Homo sapiens: one gene and its partners. The protein of the gene in region 2 purifies or fractionates together with the protein of the main gene of each other region. This does not show direct contact. Each region holds a gene or a part of one and is shown on either strand. Other genes may lie near its edges. The genes, in order: LAMTOR3, NUDT12, TARS2, FKBP15, NCOA5 and VWA8.

The links.
Region 1: the proteins of NUDT12 (region 2) and LAMTOR3 fractionate together in Homo sapiens (co-fractionation; one large-scale study listed by BioGRID). This does not show direct contact.
Region 3: the proteins of NUDT12 (region 2) and TARS2 fractionate together in Homo sapiens (co-fractionation; one large-scale study listed by BioGRID). This does not show direct contact.
Region 4: the proteins of NUDT12 (region 2) and FKBP15 purify together in Homo sapiens (affinity purification with mass spectrometry; 3 studies listed by BioGRID and IntAct, with this or other methods). This does not show direct contact.
Region 5: the proteins of NUDT12 (region 2) and NCOA5 purify together in Homo sapiens (affinity purification with mass spectrometry; 3 studies listed by BioGRID and IntAct, with this or other methods). This does not show direct contact.
Region 6: the proteins of NUDT12 (region 2) and VWA8 purify together in Homo sapiens (affinity purification with mass spectrometry; 3 studies listed by BioGRID and IntAct, with this or other methods). This does not show direct contact.

The regions. Positions count from the first base shown.
Region 1 is NC_000004.12:99,877,833-99,881,187, reverse strand, and holds the end of LAMTOR3 (ragulator complex protein LAMTOR3), read left to right. Parts: 3' UTR 1-2,852; downstream 2,853-3,355. UniProt on the Homo sapiens protein: As part of the Ragulator complex it is involved in amino acid sensing and activation of mTORC1, a signaling complex promoting cell growth in response to growth factors, energy levels, and amino acids.
Region 2 is NC_000005.10:103,548,301-103,550,577, reverse strand, and holds the end of NUDT12 (NAD-capped RNA hydrolase NUDT12), read left to right. Parts: 3' UTR 1-1,723; downstream 1,724-2,277. UniProt on the Homo sapiens protein: mRNA decapping enzyme that specifically removes the nicotinamide adenine dinucleotide (NAD) cap from a subset of mRNAs by hydrolyzing the diphosphate linkage to produce nicotinamide mononucleotide (NMN) and 5' monophosphate mRNA.
Region 3 is NC_000001.11:150,497,411-150,500,969, forward strand, and holds part of TARS2 (threonine--tRNA ligase, mitochondrial), read left to right. Parts: intron 1-119; coding exon 120-337; intron 338-1,091; coding exon 1,092-1,254; intron 1,255-1,486; coding exon 1,487-1,624; intron 1,625-1,805; coding exon 1,806-1,883; intron 1,884-3,559. UniProt on the Homo sapiens protein: Catalyzes the attachment of threonine to tRNA(Thr) in a two-step reaction: threonine is first activated by ATP to form Thr-AMP and then transferred to the acceptor end of tRNA(Thr). Also edits incorrectly charged tRNA(Thr) via its editing domain.
Region 4 is NC_000009.12:113,211,236-113,214,794, reverse strand, and holds part of FKBP15 (FK506-binding protein 15), read left to right. Parts: intron 1-3,202; coding exon 3,203-3,318; intron 3,319-3,559. UniProt on the Homo sapiens protein: May be involved in the cytoskeletal organization of neuronal growth cones. Seems to be inactive as a PPIase. Involved in the transport of early endosomes at the level of transition between microfilament-based and microtubule-based movement.
Region 5 is NC_000020.11:46,079,937-46,083,495, reverse strand, and holds part of NCOA5 (nuclear receptor coactivator 5), read left to right. Parts: intron 1-3,559. UniProt on the Homo sapiens protein: Nuclear receptor coregulator that can have both coactivator and corepressor functions.
Region 6 is NC_000013.11:41,884,580-41,888,138, forward strand, and holds part of VWA8 (von Willebrand factor A domain-containing protein 8 isoform a precursor), read right to left. Parts: intron 2,783-3,559; coding exon 2,618-2,782; intron 2,252-2,617; coding exon 2,202-2,251; intron 1,450-2,201; coding exon 1,341-1,449; intron 1-1,340. UniProt on the Homo sapiens protein: Exhibits ATPase activity in vitro.

The DNA of each region.
Region 1 (3,355 bases), on a different chromosome or scaffold from region 2:
GTCCTTTTTTTGTTCAGACTTTTTCCAAAAATCTAAACATAATTAATATACTCTTTCAGCCACATGAATAAATAATGAGTGTTTCTTGTAGGTATTGGTTTGGAGATTGTTTTACGGTAGTATGAACTGTTAACTGGAAAAGAAACCTGAGATTGCAGTCAGCCAAGATTGTGCCACTGCACCCCAGCCTGGGCAACAGAGACTCCGTCTCAAAAACAAAAAAGAAAAGAAACCAAGAAACCTCAGGCATGAACCTAATTTAATCTCCATGAAAGAGGTACTACAGTTCTAGAATATACCCTTTATGTTCAGGAATGCAGTCTATCATTCAGAGTTAATTTCTTTCTAGGCTCTTTGACAATCAGTTTTTCCCTGGATCAGTTCAGTACATATGCATTGAGCACCTGTGTGCCAGTCAGCCGAGCTATCACATTGCACAATTCTAAGAAGCACCATTCATGTCTCATCATATTTCTATGCTCTGGGAGTTGCCTTTCACATAGAATATGTGTGATTGTTATCCCTAGAATTGTGCAGTGAGGCAATTGGCTAGGTGCTGTGCTGCTTTTTCTTTCTTTCTTTTTTTTTTTAAGAGACAGAGTCTTGCTGTGTTGCCCAGTCTGGAGTGCAGTGGTGGCATGATCTTGCCTCACTGTAACCTCTGCCTCCTGGGTTCAAGCTGTTCTCATGCCCCATTCTCCCTTGTAGCTGGGATTACAGGCTTACACCATCGCACTTGGCAAATTTGTGTATTTTTAGTAGAGACAGGAATTCACCATGTTGGCCAGGCTGGTCTTGAACTCCTGACTTAAAGTGATCCACCTGCTTTGGCCTCCCAAAATGCTAGGATTATAGGTGTGAGCCACTGCACCGGGCCATGTGCTACTTTTTCTTCCTTCCATCCTTCCTCCCTTCTTCAGTGTAAATATGAGATTAATTTGTGATACCTTACTTTAAAGAACTTAGAGTTCAGTAAAGGAAGCAGGTATAGAAAGTGCTATGATAAAGCTATACATAGGATGGTATAGAACCACAGACTAGGGGCACTTAAAATGGGCAAGAAAATAGCCTTTGTAAATAAAATAGAGGCAAGAGATATAATGCTTTACCTGCAAAGAGCTATAAATACAGCCATGTACCATATAATGATGTTTCAGTTAGTGAAGGACCACATACGAGGGTGGTCAGAACAGCAGGCTATACCATATAGCCTAGGTGTGTAGTAGGCTATACCATATAGCCTAGGTGTGTAGTAGTAGGCTATACCATATAGCCTAGGTGTGTAGTAGTAGGCGATACCATATAGCCTAGGTGTGTAGTAGTAGGCTATACCATATAGCCTAGGTGTATAGTAGTAGGCTATACCATATAGCCTAGGTGTGTAGTAGGCTATACCATATAGCCTAGGTATGTAGTAGTAGGCTATACCATATAGCCTAGGTGTGTAGTAGTAGGCTATACCATCTGGGGTTCCTGTCAGTACAGTATGATGTTCACATAATGATGAAATCACCTAACAAAGCATGTCTCGAAATGTATCCACATTGTTACGTAACACATGACTGTAGTTAATTGTTACAATTGAAATACTAGATGTACTCATTGAAATCCAGAATTCCCATTATCTGGATTATTTAATATCGTTCAGGAAATTTTTGCCAGTGCAATGGTGCATGAAACAATGTCTTTTAGAAATGAGGTGGCCAGATTTCTATTTGCAGATAATAATTGTATATCTAAAAATCCTAGAAAAAGAAATGATAACAAATGGAGCTACTTAACCTTTACATGTTGAATGCTGCCACTGTTAAAATTTCTGAGGGGGTATAATAGATAAACTATCCCATAGTTCATCTGGAAAAATAAGGTGGTGAAAATTGCTAAGAAATTTTTGAAAGGGTAATGTAAACCTAGATTAACTGTTTTTGAAAGGTAGTACAGAACTGAATGCACAACTAGATATCAATGGTATGTACTCACCCAGAAAAAAGACTTCAGTACATACATGTGAGGGCTTAAAACATTGTTATAAAGACGGGATCACAATGGGAAAAGGATTATTCAATAAGTAGGGCAGGCATTCTCTATGCCTGCTAGGGAAGTGTGACTTGTTATACTCTTTATGTACAGCAATTGGCAGTCTGTGAAACTTTTAAATTCATATACATAACCTTTTGCCCTGCAATTCCACTTCTAGAAATTTATCCTACCAAACAAAGCACATAGATGTGCAAAAGTATGTATTTACAAGTATATTCTTTGCAACTTGGTAATGTCAAAGAATTGGAAGCAACCTAAATATCTGCCATAGGTAGGATAACCATATGCTTTGGCTTTTTGAACACTACCAGTTTATACCTGCTGTTCTTGGATAATTATTAATAGTGCTTTCATTCTCAATGTCTCACTTTAGATAATAAATTACAGAGGATTGGTGAAACTAATTTGCCCAATGGAAAAAGGAATGAAGAAGTGCTTTAGGTACTGAGATGAAAAGATCTCTAAGGCATAATAATGTTTATTGAGAAAAGCATGGTGTCAAACTGTATGGCATGCTACAATTGATGTATAAGAAGAAAAAATGTGTATGTATTCCTATTTGTTTGTATATGGTAGACTGTCTCTGAAGACATATATGGAAGAACCTGATCACATTGGTAGTCTCCAAGGAGCAGAACTAGATACCTGGGGGATAAGGATCCCAGGAGTGAGCCTTTTCATTGTAAACTTCATTGTACTTTGAGTTTTTAACTGTTCAAAAATAATAAAATTAGAAATAAAATATTTCAACAAACAATAAAATGGGATATTTGGGGAAGAAAGTTGTCTCAGGGCTCTCCAAAGAAGCAGAACCGGTTGGACATATGTGTATTTATTTCAAGGAAATGGCTTATACTATTGCGGGGACTGGCAAGTCTAACATCTGTTGGACGGGCCAGAAGACTGAAAAGTCTCAGGTAGGAGCTGAGGCTGCAGTTTCAGAGCAGAAGTTCGTCCTCTTGGAAACTTCAGTTTTGCTCTTAAAGCCTTTCAGTTGATTGGATGAGTCTCACCCACATTATGGAGGATTATCTCTTTTACTTAAATTTAAGGGATTATAAATGTTAAGTACATCTCCAGAATACATCCACAGCAGTACCTGGATTCATGTTTTAATAACTAGGCAATGTGTCCTAGCCAAGTTGATGCATAAAACTAACGTTCACAGTCCATTCCTAGTCAGCTTGGCACCTGTATGCATCTTTTTTGTTGTTTTTTGTTTTGTGAGACAGAGTCTCACTCTGTCACTTAGGCTTGAGTGCTGTGGCCTGATCTCAGCTCACTGCAACCTCTGCCTCCTGGGTTAAAGCGAGTC
Region 2 (2,277 bases):
TCTAATAAGAGACATCATGTTGGAAAGATGTTCTAGAAATGTGCATAAATTTCAGTGCCTCTTGTAAGCATTAAACTGATGATGAAGAAAGTTCCTGATTTGAGAAATGAATCAAAGTAATTTTAATGAATTTTTAGCTTGTATTAGCTTGAGTTAGCTGGCATTGATTTTTTAGTCCTTTTGTTACCTTTAAGTTGTCAATATATGGTTTTTGTTCATCTCCCCATTGTAGTCCCACTTGCTCTTTCCTGGGGGTTCCATTGTTCTAGCAGTGGAGGTGTTATAGTGTCGCCACTCGTCTAATTTGACCAGTGTTAAGAATTTTCTAATTTAATAATTTAATAGTGATCTCAATACCACACCCTCATGGAAGGAGAAAAGCATACTATTATATCTGGGACCTCTCTTTTAGACCTAAAATTAATTAACATATCTACTTATATGTTACTTATACCTAAAGCTGTTATTAAGACAAACCAAGATTCTCTGCTTTTGCACTGAAATTAAACTTGAAAGGAATTCTCCTCAAAGGTCGGATATTAAATAAGTCCCAGGCAGATTTACATATTTAATTTAAAACATTGGCTTTATTTCATTTTGTGATGAGTGATGTATCTGTGTTAACAAAAAATTGTATAATCATTACCAATACTATTTATTATGCTCAAATATATCTTGGCTTTGACCTTATTTCAACACATTCTAAGAAGCCTTGACAAAGTAAGTATATTTTAGAGCTGAATCAGTAAGATTCTAGAGAAAGCAAAACATAGTAGTTCACAATTTTGCAACATAGAAAGTCACATTTTGAAAGGCTATTTTGAAATTGATTTAATAGCTATTATAGTTTATGAATATCAAAATTTGTATAATTTGCATCTTTACTAATGTATGCTAGAGCTACAAGAGACCTTAAGGATAATATATGAAATTAGCTTTCCTTATTTTATAGATAAGGAAAAAGAAATTGTGAAAGGTGAATTTACCTAATTAGTGAAAGTTACATAACTAATTACAACAGTCTGTACTATATAATGCAGAGGACGATTCTCCCTGTAAAAGGAACTAGAAGCTATTACTAAAAATATATATAGACAAAATTAAAAGAAGGAATGATAAGAATAAATTTAATTTACCAAATATTGTTAATTAAAATTTTAGATACTTAACATTTATTTAACTTAAATAAAAGATAACTGTCAGATAAAACTTTATTTTACTAATGAGCAGTGATTTTCTTAGGAATTGATGAAGGCTTATTGGTATCAAGAATTTAAACCAAATTAAAACTGACAGAGGACATTTAGATACATAATAAAATTCGAGCTACATAAGTATATGGAAAATAATGTACCTTGATTATTATGAAATAGAGCATCTTGAAATTCAGTTTTACTCTAAATGTACTTTTAATACTTGCAGATTCTAAGATTACATTGTAAAATTCCAGGTTTTCATAATGTTAAAATAGGAAAGTAGAATATAAAGTATCAACAAGTGTAGTTATACATTTTGTTTTGGATATTTAATCCTTACTTGGGAAAAAATCAGCATCTAGGTAAATTATTATTTTAATAACAACTCTTAAATTGCCAACCTCTGAGAGGTGAAAAGCTATGTAAATAGAAGGAATGGCCAGTTCAAAAGAATAGTAGATGTGATAGTGCCGTGAATGTATTCTACTGGAAATGAATGTAATAATACATTAAATTTTTAAAATCTATTTTGTTTTGTGTGTGTGTTTAACATGTTTTGACAAGTGTCCTGAAAAATGAGAAAAGCTGGATTTCAGTCGTTAACCTGTTTCGAATTGATAATGTACAAGAAATGCAAAAGCCTTTTTAAAAGTGTCTGTGTTTGGGAGACTTAAAACTTTGATTTGAATCTTAAAGTATAGTTTGGGGTCAAATACAAACAGACTTACATATATACATACATATATAAAGTCAATAATTTTTGTTCTTCAGGTTTAAAGCGATATATCTAATTTTTATTACTTGTCTAATACTGCTAATTGTTGGATTTTGATATTTTCACATGTTGATGGAACATGAAGAGTTAGAAGCCCACATATTTTATTTAGTTGGAAAAATGAGAAATTCTTTTAAAGACCCAGTTAGGGATTTGGCTGAAGACAGAAAATAATAGGATAACAAAGGGAGAGACCAAGATGGAAGGAGGAAGAATAAGTTTGTTAATAAGCCAAATTAATCCCACATAACAACAATAGATAGCTGGTCCTGGAACTGTGTTGCTAATGTGGATACAACAAAATAT
Region 3 (3,559 bases), on a different chromosome or scaffold from region 2:
TTAATAGGTTGTGGTTGCAATCAGCATGGCCTGAGGGCCCAGGAAGATCACACAGCTGACACCCTACCTGCTTTCCTTCCAGTTACTCTGACCTTCCATGTCTGTACCCTCCTCTCCAGGCTGAGTATGCCCATCGTGGTTTCTCCGAGGTGAAAACTCCCACACTGTTTTCTACGAAGCTCTGGGAACAGTCAGGGCACTGGGAGCATTATCAGGAAGACATGTTTGCCGTGCAGCCCCCAGGCTCTGACAGGCCTCCCAGCTCCCAGAGTGACGATTCTACCAGGCATATCACAGATACACTCGCCCTCAAGCCTATGAACTGCCCTGCACACTGGTAAGCTGGGAGCTAGGGTTACAATCAGGTTGCTAAATATTAAATAATAGAAAGCACCTTGGGGCCGGGCACGGTGGCTCACGCCTGTAATCCCAACACTTTGGGAGGCCGAGGCGGGCGGATCACCTGAGGTCGGGAGTTTGAGACCAGCCTGACCAACATGGAGAAACCCTGTCTCTACTAAAAATACAAAAAATTAGCCGGGCACGGTGGCGGGCGCCTGTAGTCCCAGCTACTCAGGAGGCTGAGGCAGGCTAATGGCGTGAACCCAGGAGGTGGAGCTTGCAGTGAGCCGAGATCGCGCCACTGCACTCCAGCCTGGGTGACACAGCGAGACTCCATCTCAAAAAAAAAAAAAAAAAGAAAGCACCTTGGAAAGAGTATTGGGACACCGATTTGAGCCTACAGTCTTCCCCCTAGCTAACCATGTAAATTTGGGAAACTCATTTTACCTCTTTAGGTCTCAGTCTCCTTAAAGTTGCTATCTAAGGCTCCTCCTTCAGCTCAGTGACCATCACAGAACAGGGAAATGGTAAACGATGTCTGTTATTGTGTTACTGAGAAATCCACTTTTGAACCTCAGGGCTCAGACTGTGATGAGTGGGATTGACAGGACTCAGTGGGAGGATGTGCTGAGGCTGGAGAGGGTTATAGCAGATGGTGCAGAGAAAGTAGGCAAGCAGATTGGGTGGAGGAGCAGTCTTCGGGGGCTAGTCCTCCCTATGGCCCTGACCCCTCTGCACCCCAACCTCAGCCTGATGTTCGCCCACCGGCCCAGATCCTGGCGGGAACTGCCCCTGCGACTAGCTGACTTTGGGGCTCTACACCGGGCCGAAGCCTCTGGTGGTCTGGGGGGACTGACCCGACTGCGGTGCTTCCAGCAGGATGACGCTCACATCTTCTGTACAACAGATCAGGTGGCCTTTCCCTGGCTCCACCAAAGCTTTTCTAAACCACCTTTCTTTCTCCCTATGAACCTGCAAACCCCTGATCTTTATTTGCCCCCTGTATGTACTATAATTCAGCTACATTCTACCCCCAGCTTGCTTCCGCTTCCTCTCTGTTTTTGCCCTTTGTTTTCCTCAAACTGCCAGCATCCCTGATCTCTAGCGGGCTCACAGCTCACTGACCCTTATTTCCTGCCCCTAGCTGGAAGCAGAGATCCAAAGCTGTCTTGATTTCCTCCGTTCCGTCTATGCCGTTCTTGGCTTCTCCTTCCGCCTGGCACTGTCCACCCGGCCATCTGGCTTCCTGGGGGACCCTTGCCTTTGGGACCAGGCCGAACAGGTGAGTAGGAGGTAGAGAAATAGAGGCAGATAAACCACTCTCTGGTGGGAAGGAGTGGAGAATACAGTAATCAAGGTTCTCAGAGGCATCTGGTGAGTGGGTCATTTGTTGGGGACTGACCGGATGTGTTGCTTTTGAAGTCTAAGATGATGTATTCCACTCTTGTCTCATTCCTTCAAAGGTCCTTAAACAGGCCCTGAAGGAATTTGGAGAACCCTGGGACCTCAACTCTGGAGATGGTGCCTTCTATGGACCTAAGGTAAGCTTGGGACCCTGGTTAGTGTTGTATTTATTTATTTTTTGCTTTGTTTTAGTAAATATTTAATAGATACAAAGAATTTTTTTTTTTGAGACAGTCTCACTCTGTCACCCAGGCTAAAATGCAGTGGTGTGATCTCAGCTCACTGCAACCTCCAGCTCCCTGGTTCAAGCAATTCCCCTGCCTCAGCCTCCCGAGTAGCTGGGATTACAGGTGTACGCCACCACACCCGGCTAATTTTTTTGTATTTTTAATAGAGATGGGGTTTCGCCATGTTGGCCAGACTGGTCTCGAACTCCTGACCTCAGGCAATCCACCCCACTTGGCCTCCCAAAGTGCTGGGATTACAGGCGTGAGCCACCGCACCCGGCCACAAAGAAATATTTTTAAACTTACGTAGGATATAAAGAAAAACAATATACTTTCTGCCCTCTTGGCATCTGCAATCTAGTGAGGGCTGCTGAAGGTAAATAGGCCATATCAGTGCTGCGAGATCTGTGCTGTGTAGGTACCAAGAGAGCACGTTAGCTGGGGTTAGCATTACTCGGGGAGGTTACAAAAGGTGTCCTGCAGGAATCACTTTCCAATCTGAAAGGTGAGTGTTGGCCAAGTAAAGATGTGTTTCAGGAGGGAACAGTGTAGGCAGAGGCTGGGGATAAGGATGAAAACACATGGCAGACCAATCTGGGCAACACAGGGAGACCCTGTGTCTACCAAAAAAAAAAAAAAAAATTAGCCGGGTGCAGTAGCTTGTGCCTGTGGTCCCAGCTACCCAGCAGGCTGAGATGGGAGGATCACCTGGTCCCAGGAGGTAGAGGCTGCAGTGAGCCGAGATTGCGCCCCACTGCACTCCAGCCTGGGTGATAGAGTGAGACCCTGTCTCAAAAAAAAAGAAGCCAAGGGGAAAAAAGGACTGAAAAGTGTCCACTGGATTTAGTAAAAAGGCTGCTGGATTTCAAAGGACCATTTTCAGTAAAGTAGGGCCTGAGGGTGGAGTTAGAAGATGAATAAATGAGGCCTGTGTGGTGGCTCACGCCTGTAATCCCAGCACTTTGGGAGGCCGACGTGGGTGGATCACTTGAGGTCAGGAGTTCGAGACCAGCCTGGCCAACGTGGCGAAACCCCATCTCTACTAAAAATATAAAAATTGGCCGGGTGAGGTGTTAGGACACACCTGTAGTCCCAACTACTCAGTAGCCTGAGGCAGGAGAATCGCTGAACCTGGGAAGTTGCAGTGAGCCAAGATCACACCACTGCACCCTAGCCTGGGCAACAGAGCAAGACTCCGTCCCAAAAAGTAAAAATAAAACAGGCTGGGGGCGGTGGCTCACGCCTATAATCCCAGCACTTTGGGAGGCTGAGGCAGGTGGATCACCTGAGGTCAGGGGTTTGAGACCCTGTCTCTACTAAAAATACAAAAATTAGCCCAGCGTGGTGACAGGCACCTGTAAACCCAGGAGGCGGAGGTTGCAGTGAGCCGAGGTCGCACCACTGCACTCCAGCCTGGGCGACAGAGTGAGGCTCCATCTCAGAAAAATAATAATAAAATGAAAAATAAAATAAATGCTATGATGAGAGGAAGTCTATTTGGAGGGAGAAGTTGTTGTAAAGGGAAGTTCCTGGAGAGGTTTAAGGTAGGATTGAGAAGCCTTCATAGAAGGGATCACCATTGCCAT
Region 4 (3,559 bases), on a different chromosome or scaffold from region 2:
TGGTGGCTACACCAAACAACGGATTTTCAGTGTAGACAAAACAGCTTTCTATTGGAAGAAGATCTAGGACTTTCATGGCTAGAGAGGAGAAGTCAATGCTTGGCTTCAAAACTTCAAAGGACAGGCTTAACTCTTATTAGGGGATAATGCAGCTGGTGACTTAAAGTTGAAGCCGTTGCTCATGTACCATTCCAAAAATCCTAGGGCCCTTAGGCATTATGCTAAATTTACTCTGCCTGTGCTCTGCAAATGGAACAAAGCCTGGATGACAGCACATCTGTTTATAGCATAGTTTACTGAATATTTTAAATGCACTGTTGAGACCCACTGTTCAGAAAAAAAAAGCCTTCTTTCAAATTATTACTGCCCATTGACAGTGTACTTGGTCACTCACAAACTCTGATGGAGATGTATAAGATTAATGTTGTTTTCATGCCTGCTAACACAACATCCATTCTGCACCTCAGATCAGGTCTTACCATTTAAGAAATACATTTCATGGCTAAGCACAGTGGCTCACACCTGTAATCCCAGAACTTTGGGAGGCCAAGGTGGGTGGATCACTTGAGCCCAGGAGTTCAAGAGCAGCCTGGGCAACATGGTGAAACCCTGTCTCTACAAAAAATATAGAAATTAGCCAGGTTTCTTGGTGCATGCCTGTAGTCCCAGCTTCTTGAGAGGCTGAGGTGGGAGAATCCCTAGAGTGTGGTGGTGCATGCCTGTAGTCTCAGCTATTTGGGAGGCTGAGGTGGGAGGATTGGTTGAGCCCTGGAGGCAAAAGCTGCAGTGAGCCATGAACGCCCCACTGCACTCTAGCCTGGTGACAGATTGAGACCCTGTCTCTAAAAAAAAATTGTTTTAAAGAGTTAACACAGCAAGCCTGAGACTATTATTCCTAAAAAGCCCTGCTTACAAGGTTGGCTCTTGGCTGATATCTTAGTCTGTTTTCTGTTGCTTATAACAGAATACCTAAAGTGTGATAAAGAAAAGGAATTTATTTTTTACAGTTATGGAGGCTGAGAAGTTCAAGGTCAGAAGGGCTGCATGTGGTGAAGGTCTTCTTCTTGGTAGGAACTCTCTGCAGGGTCCTGAGATGGCATGGGGCATCACATGGCAAGCATACTAGCTCAGATCTTTCTTCCTCTTCTTATAACGCCACCAGTCTCATTCCCATGACATTTATGATAATCTAGTAATCCTTTTTTTTTTTTTGGTTCGGGGGAGACAGGGTCTTGCTCTGTCACCTAGGCTGTAATGCAGTGACATGATCATAGCTCACTGTAGTCTCAAACTCCTGGGCTCAGTTGAGCCTCCTGCCTCAGCCTCTCAAGCCGCTAGGACTCCAGGCGTTTACCACCAAGACTGGATAATTTTTTTTTTTTTTGGAGACGGAGTTTCGCTCTCGTTGCCTAGGCTGGAGTGCAGTGGCGTGATCTCAGCTCACTGCAACATCTGCCTCCTTGGTTCAGGCGATTCTCCTGCCTCAGCCTCCCGAGTAGCTGGGATTACAGGTGCGTGCCACCACGCCCGGCTAATTTTTGTACTTTTAGTAGAGATAGGGTTTCACCATGTTGGTCAGGCTGGTCTCGAACGCCTGACCTCAAGTGATCCTCCCATCTCAGCCTCCCAAAATGCTGGGATTACGGGTATGAGCCACTGTGCCCAGCCGACCTGTGCACTTTTTATTTTTGCTGATTTTTCTGTATATTTTTTTGTAATAGATCTTAGCCATGAGTACCACTATATGCTGAGACCATTGAGTCCTTCTCTAGAATCCTTGAACCTGGCAGTGGTCTTGGAGCACAAAAGGAAGAACAGGTTTTGCTGGGGCAGTGGGCATTGGAGGATATGAGTTCTGGTTTGGACATGTTACATTTGTATTGCCTGTGGGATATCTATGTTTTCTGGCACTCAAGAGCAAGTTCTGGGCTGGGAATGCAGATTTGAGCATCACCAGCATTTGGATAGCATTTGATACCAAGGTAAATGAGTACAGAGAGACAGTATGAAACCCTACCAAGGGAGAGAAAGTATGAAGCCCTGGAGACATGGACATTTAAAGATTGGGCAAATGAAGAAGAAGAGCCCAAGGGGTTAAAGAGAAGCCAGAGAAATGGGGCAAAACAAGCCAGGGATTGCATTAGTATTTATTGATATCTTATTTGGACCTGTTCCTTCCACAACCCCTGCAGAAGTCAAGAGAAGAATTTGAAGAAGAACAAGTTAATTGACAGTATAAAAAGGTGGTATGAGGTGAAATAAGGACTGGTAAACTGGGGTTAGTAGCAAAGAAGTTGTTGGTGATCGGATGGGCCTGGTGGCTCACACCTGTAATCCCAGCACTTTGGGAGGCCGAGGTGGGTGGATCACTTGAGGTCAGGAGTTCGAGACCAGCCTGGCCAGCATGGTGAAACCCCGTCTCTACTAAAAATACAAAAATTAGCCGGGTGTGGTGACACGCGCCTGTAGTCCCAGCTACTTGGGAGGCTGAGGCAGGAGAATCACTTGAACCTGGGAAGCGGAGGTTGCAGTGAGCCGGGATCACACCACTGCACTCCAGCCTGGGCAACAGAGTGAAACTCCATCTAAAAAAAAACAAAAACAAACAAAAAAATTTTTAGTGATTTTAGCAAGATCAGTTTCAGTGGAATGGTGGGGGATAAGATTTCTTGCAAGGGATGATGAAAGAATGGTTCTGTTAGATGAAAGGATGGCAGGGACCATGTTTGATGGGTAAGTTTGTATCATAGCTTCATTTCAATTGAATAAACTAGTAAAAAGCAGGAGGGGGAGTAGTCAGTAAGGGTGACTAGAAACTGTGATTTGCTAAAAGCAAGAATTTACAGTTTGAAGATACCATAGAGAGCACCTGAACTAGTCACTTCAGTTTATAGGTGGAAAAACTGAGGTCCAGAAAAAAGAAATGCCTTGACCAAGGTCCTGGGGATAAACAGGGTCAACTGATGATGTTCAAATCACATACACAATCTTGATTTCAAAGACACTTTGCTGTGTCCAATATTTTTATTTATTTTTTTTTTTAATTTTTAAATCAGCTTTCCTAGCTTGAAGTGTTTCTAGTATTGAATGGTGGGATGTAGTCAAGGAGGTATTTGTTCAAGGTTGGAGATGAGCAGCTTTTATAATAATTCCAGGTTTGGGATATATCAGTGAAATTTCATTTTTCATTTTCTACTAACAGTGCCAGATTGGCCTCACTTTTTGGACTGGATCAGGCAGCTGCTGGCCATGGAAATGAATTTTTCCAGTACACAGCCCCAAAACAGCCTAAGAAAGGCCAGGGAACGGCAGCAACAGGTAAGTTAAGAGTGTATTAGCCGAGCGAGGTGGCTAATGCCTGTAATCCCAGCACTTTGGGAGGCCGAGGCCGGTGGATCACCTGAGGTCAGGAGTTTGAGACCAGCCTGGCCAAGATGGCAAAACCCCATCTCTAAAAAAAATACAAAAATTAGCCAGGTGTGGTGGCGTGTGCCTGTAATCCCAGCTACTAGGGGGGCTGAGGCCGGAGGATCTCTTGAACCCAGGAGGCAGAGGTTGC
Region 5 (3,559 bases), on a different chromosome or scaffold from region 2:
CTCTAGAATAGGGCAACACCTCATTCTATAAAATAGAACAAGTGTTCCAATGAGCTGAGCAGAGGCGTTTGGCTTTATAAACAGAGAAGGGAGCTGAGGAAAGCAGAGACAAGGAGCAAAAAGCGGATTGGTCATTTCAGAGTTACTTTTCTTGTGAAGGGTAAAGCAGTGCAGACTTCCTTTTCATGCTGGCTAAAACTGGCCTATTTGTGGTTTTGGCCATTATTTATCTCCTGATTTCGCAGAACGTCAGGAAAAGATCTTTGTCTTGGCTTGATAGCGTGGAACTTCATCATGAATTTGGTTTGGTCTTTGGGCCTAGTTCAGGAGCTCAGTCCAAAGCAATGGCCTCCTGGAAATTTTCTTTGACACCGCTCTTGTTATTCCTAGTCCTCATTGTTTTCTGTGGCTGTAGCTTATGAACTATAAAATCTGGTTTTAAGGTGAAAAGAGTTGTTTTATGATTGTACAATTAAAAAATAAGTAGAACAAAGTAGTTTTTGGTACTGTGAGTGAAAGAAACATGCATTTTTATTTATAGCATTATCCAAGGACCATTTTGTGACCCCTGTCTGGCATATTAGTCTAAAATAAAATTGTGGATTAGATATTGTATATTTTGGGAGTTCTTCACCCCATCCTTTTGTAGTTTATAATGGTTCTGCCATTTCCAGCATGTTTTCTAGATTATTTTCCAGTTCTTTTCCTTGTATGTAAAGCTCTTTTTCTTGTCTAAAAATTCTTAACTGAGAAGTGCTTTTAACTGTTTTCAGACCACCACTTGGACACTATAGATATTCAGGCCAAGATAAAGCACTTCATGGTGATTATGATGATTTTGAATGGCATTCACATTGCTAGTATAATTAACAAAGTATAGAAGTATCACCCAAACTGAAGTGGAGAAGACACTGAGAGATGACTTTTGGTCTTAAGGGCAGTTGGCCAGAATAAAGTATAGCAGAAGGGGAAAGAAGTACCGTTTCTTCCCTTTTCTATTCAGAGGAGACATTAGACCTCTCCTTGGAAGAGATTCCCAAGTTGCCACTTCCCTCTTGTTGATTAATTTTTCTCCAACCAGAGTTCCCCATCTGATGTCCAGAAAGATCTCCAAATTGTCTTTCTACCTTTTTTTCCCTTCTTTACATTAACACCATTTCTATTTGCTTGGTGTTGATTATATCTCTCTATAAGGATTTAGGAGAAAATAATCTGATTATTTAATACAAAATAAAACTATAGATTAGATACTGTGTCTTTCTTTGGGAATTCTTCACCCCATTCTTTTGTGGTTTAAAACAGTTCTGTCATTTCCTACATGTTTTCTGGATTATTTTCTGGTTTCTTCCTTTTATGTAAAGCCGTGAGTTGGTGCTTTAGCATTCTCAATATTTGCATTTTCAAAGAAAATCTTTTTTAAATGAACCCTCTGCTTCCAACTGACAGGTTTTCAAATTCTGTGACAAAAAAAATAGGATGAGGGAAGTTTTTTCTTGACTTCTTGAATCTTTGCTCTCCGTGATTAGTTCCTTAAAGTTATTTATTCTTCTGTATTTCTGAACTCATGGATTTCCCAAAAGTTCTATGTGCACATGTGTTAGGATTTTTTGGGTGTATGGGGATTGGCAGTAATGTTGGTGGTTGTGTTTTTACAACTCTCACTGAAAACTCCCCAGCCCTACCCTAATCTGAGCAATTCTATTAGATAGGAAAAAAAAAAAAATCCAGGTCTCATTTTCTCCATACGTCAGCCCAGATGGAAATTTAAGGAACTCTTAAATAGAGATGAATAAACAGATACTTGACATACTACACTAAAAGTTTACTAAACCCTAAAATGAGACAATTATCTGAGAATTCTTGTTTTTGCAGAAGAAACATCCCATGCTGTCAAATATAAATACTTTGGACTACCCAATGAAAATAGATACTACGAGGCAAATTACAATCAAAATGGTTTAAAGATATAATCTTGAATATTCTTTAATCTTTTAAGTAATTACAAAACGATTCCACCAGCTTCAAAGTAAAATATTTATGTCCTTCATTCTAACTAGAACTGGTTTTGTTCCAAAGATATAGTATACATGACCATGTGATTTCTCCAGTTCTGTATGTAGATGCTCACGAAACTGGCTATAATTATACAGTGTAATATTCCTTTTCATATGTAGAGAGCAAATTATTGGTAATAGAAACCTACCAATTAAAGTAATACTATATGTGTTGTACTCTTAACCTGAATGTTTGCCAGGTCTAGTCAGTGTTTAGATGTGAGTTTCCTTTATTCACAAGACCATTTAATAATATATGAACTCCTGCTGAAGTTATGTTATGTATATTTTTTATCTTAATACACACCCAGTGTATTCCAGAGACACCTTGAAAACTACTTAAAATACTCAAAGATATTATATTTCTCTCTGAATCATAGCCAACCTATATAATTAGAAAGTGGTACACAGTAAGTGAACAGACTCAGTAAGTCATAAACCTGAACTAGTATTCTTCACAATTACGTATAATAGAACTAGATATTCCCTATAAGGCCTGTCATTATATAATTTGTAATTTAGACCATTATAAACTTTAAGAGTTGTAAATTGTGAAAGTACTGCATGCAGTAGCAAAGCTATGGTCAGATATTACTGGCCAAGTCTTACATAGAAAATATTTTCAGGTTTTTTTTAAAATAGAAGGATTATATCTTGTGTCTGCTTAATTGAAAAGGTAAGAATCAATTTAAGATATACTTCACTATTTAGCTTTATATTATTTTCAGTTTTGTCAGAAGCCATTTTTCTAGACAAATTAGAGACTTCTGATTTAAAATGGAATTGAAGATTACCTTCATTTGATCAGGAACTCAAAAGTTGGCAAAATAGCAGCATAAAATCTCTACCAGACCTCTAAGTTTCTTGTTATTGCTGTGGTCTTTCATGTGATAGGAATCTGGTTGGGATTTTTAAAATACATAATTATTATTTTAAAGCACTCGAATTATGTGAGTACTTAATACCATTTGATGTCATTAGATACACTATTAATTGTTTAATACGGAAAAAGGGGAACAAACTCTACTGCAGCAGAAAGCACTTTTATTTCTTCATTCATCTGAAGTATGAAATTTGTAATGTATTTATTTAGCTTTAAGTCATATGAAAACTGTCAGGTATTATTTTGGGGCATAGATTTCTTAGTACATGGTATTTATTATTCACTTCAATTTTTGTAAAGCAGGTATTCTTGGTTTTTAGCAAAGCAGGCTTTAGCTATACAAATTTGCTTTTCTTTAAGCTTATGTGATTCTACTTTTCTCCCATATCTAGTTCTATACGCCAGCCTTCTCTAATGAAAACAACTTAGGAGGAGTGTTTTATTACCTAACCCTACTATACCAAACGCCAGTCCTTATTCTTGGTTATCTGTAGATGTTAACAGGTCATATTCTTTGTTTATTAAAAATAATAATAATAATTTTCTTTCCTGCATGTTATTCTGGAAGATTCTATCCAGTGGAATTCAACACAAGACACACTAACAGGAGGCCCTGCTTCAT
Region 6 (3,559 bases), on a different chromosome or scaffold from region 2:
AAAAAAAAAAAGAAAAAAGCACATGCAAACAAATGTGGCAATATATTAATAATGGGTGATTGTAGGTGAGGGGATTATGAATGTTTTACTGTTTTTCAACTTTTTTTTACATTTGAGAATTTTCAAAGTAAAATGTTCTAAGCAAAAACAAAAGATTTCATAAGAATTTTCAAAATAAAATGTTCTAAGCAAAAACAAAAAGATTTGATAAAAGTATAAGATTTGATAAACAGGAGGAGAAATTCTGTTCTGGATGTATAGAACAATGTCAACAATACCTAGGCTCCCTGACTCACATGAAACATACATATATACATACATACATACATACATACATACATACATACATACATACAAGTTTAAAAATAAGTCTCTTGCCTAAGATAGTATTCCCACTATCTTGGATGGTGCCCTCCTCCACAGGGTCTCACTGAGTGTTACAAAAGCTTCCTAGTCATTCCCTCACTTCCAACAAAGGTGTCTTCCTCCAACATAAGTCTGGTCACATTCATAGCCCACCAACTTAATATTGTCTGATAAGCCACTTTTTCCATATCATAAAATCCAGGAAACTTCATTCATCATGCAAAACATTTCACAATAGCGGTCTGACTTCTCCCTCTACCACACACACTTGCTTTAGGGATACAACTTATTCTCATTCTCCAAAGATACTAGGCCCTTTTGTGATTAAACACATTTGCCTGTGCTTTGACTTCCTGGGCCTTTTATCACTCCAGACATGACCGCCATGCCCTTTGTGAAACTGTAGTGGACAATGTCTGTACTCTATCAGATCCCCTCAGATCTGTTTGCATTCTCTCTTGTGCCTCCTAGCTTTCTCTTCCAACAGCAATTGCTGTAGGTCTTTCTAAGAAGACGATCCTTGGGCTCTTGAAGCCACCCTTGCACACATGCTGGGAGAGCAGTTAGTGTCTGGGAATTTGTGTCCCCTGAGACAACCATGACACAGAGACTGATGGAAGCTAGAACAGTGTGAAAGCCCTAGCTCCCCTAACTCAGGTAAGGACAGCTCTGAGGCCTAACTCACACTGCAGCACACCTCTTACTTGATCAGGCTAAAGCCTTCCTTCCCTCTGTAGAACTTTACTGAGATTGCATGTCTAGCTCCTACTCCAAAGCTGAAAGCTCTTTAGGGGCTCAGAACATGTCCTTGGTCTCTGTACAGTTTACTGCACTGCACAACAAATTAATCTCAGGCCTTACAATATTTATAGAAGAGTATGACAAAAGCAAACTGAAGTCATTAATCCCTAATGATTAACTTTCAAAATTTTTAACATATTTGGGTATGCCAGTCATTAATTTATTTTACTTACCAAGATTTGAACCGCAGCTGCTAAACTATCTAAAGGAAAGTCTGGAAGTCCAAGAGTAGAAGATTCTTGGGAACACAGAGTTGTGGCAAAGGACAAGAGCTGAGAAACTCTAAGGGAAAAATGATATTAAATTTTAATAGTTTTAAAATATAAAATGTGTAAGTTGTTAAATATAAAATACAGGGGCCAATTTAATTAATCTAAAAAAGATCCCTAATATTAATTCTTAAGGAACAATGGTTCCGCATCATAATATCCTACTTAAAACTCAGAAGCTGATTAGATGCAAATATATTCCTAAATTCATCACAATATTTGAGGTTTTTCACCACCTGGTCCAAATCTACCCTGCCAGCCTCATCTCTCACATTTCGTAATCCCAAACCTAAACTCTAGCCTCCAAGAGTTTTTTATGGCCCTAAAAACAAGGCATAAACTCTCACATTCCATGCTTTTAAAACAAACAAACAAACAAAACAAAAAAAAAACACTTGTTGTGTTCGAATTTCTTGATTCCACTCTCTATCTGGCAAAAACTTGCTCATTATTTAGGACCCATTTCAAACACCAATGCTTTTATGAAGCCCTTATAAAGTCTCAACTAATGCCCCCAAATATTTTCAAATTATGGCACTTACTATACCATGTTAACCAAAGCTATTCACATATCTTTCAACTCTATTAGATCTTGAGTTTCCTGCCAAAGATATCTTATTAATTTTATCACCAAACATCCTAATACTGAAAAATTCTTATAAGAATTCTAGTTGTTGAATGACTGAATTAATTAATCAATCAATCAATGAACAGGCAAAACAAATTCAATATTCAGTGTCCAGACATTTATAAAAATATACTTACTTCTCAGCAGAAACATTGGCTCCAATTGAATATAACAACTTAAGTTGGTCCTAAAGTAATACAGAAACATATTAAATTAATTAACAAGAAATGTAACAGATTAAATGCAAATGTTTTGTAGATACAATCCAACCTTTTAATTAAGCAGACACTAAATATTTAACAGCAAAAAATCATTTATTGATACATTTCATTTTCTAAAAGAAAAGCCAGCCTTTTAAAAAAAATCCTTCAAATAATGCCATAATAATTTTTCTTCCTAGTTTCCAGAGCTTTTCTTTACTCTTTATTCTCATATCTTTCCATGACCTACTCAGGAAGACATTCAAAACTGCAGTAACATTTTTATAGCATTGAAGTTCTTGTTATAAATAGAAAAACTGTTTAACAAATAAATTATCCTTGGTCTTACTTACCTTGAAGGGTAAATAATAAATATCCCTGGCTTGAAATCGAGAACGAAGAGGGGGGTCTAATGGATTCCCAGAATACCTTGGCACTGGCAAGCCCAAGGCAATCACTCGGAAATTTTCACTAACTCGGACAATTTTCCAAGAATCCAACTCTTTTTTGGTATGATCCTATAAAAGTAAGAGATCCGGAAGCTATAGCATAAATGATACAAATCACAACTGTAAGAGCTGCCAAGTCCAGGGACTTAGGACTTGACTGTTGAGAAAACTGTATTGGAGAACACTCTCAAATCCATACTGTCAAGGAAGGCAGCAAAGTGAAATCAGGTTCAGGATGCCAGGGCAGGCTCACAACATGAAGACTGGGGTGTTTGAAAGGAAAAGCAGTTAACACACCAAGGAATAAAGGAGACTTGGGTCAGATCTCCAAGCCTTAGTCAGTAACACAGAGGAAAACAGTCAGGGGGTAAGGAAAATACATGACTAGAGGTTGTAACAAAGGTAGTCCCCGACGGGCAGATCACCAGCAAAGCTGTGATTGATTACCAGTGGACCTTAAATAGATAATTATGTTTATGGTTATTCCTAGCAAAGCATATTACTAGCAATAACTAACATGTTTTGGAAACTTACTATGTGGTAAGCACATTCCATGGATTTTTCTCATTTAACTTTCACCAGAATCCAATATAGACTATCTCCTTTTTATATGAATGAATGAATCAAAGTTCAAAGGAGTTATATAACTTGCCCATCGTCCTGCAACTAGCATACAGTGGAGCTTAGAGAATGGAAACAGTATGGGTTTTAGAGTCACAAATCCTGGCTCAACTGCTTGATGTACACTTTTACTAAATGTTAGCGTATGCATGGTATTATACCTTTGGAACCTTAGCCTTCTTAGTAGGAAAAATATCACCTACATTATTGTGACTGCTAGGAAAA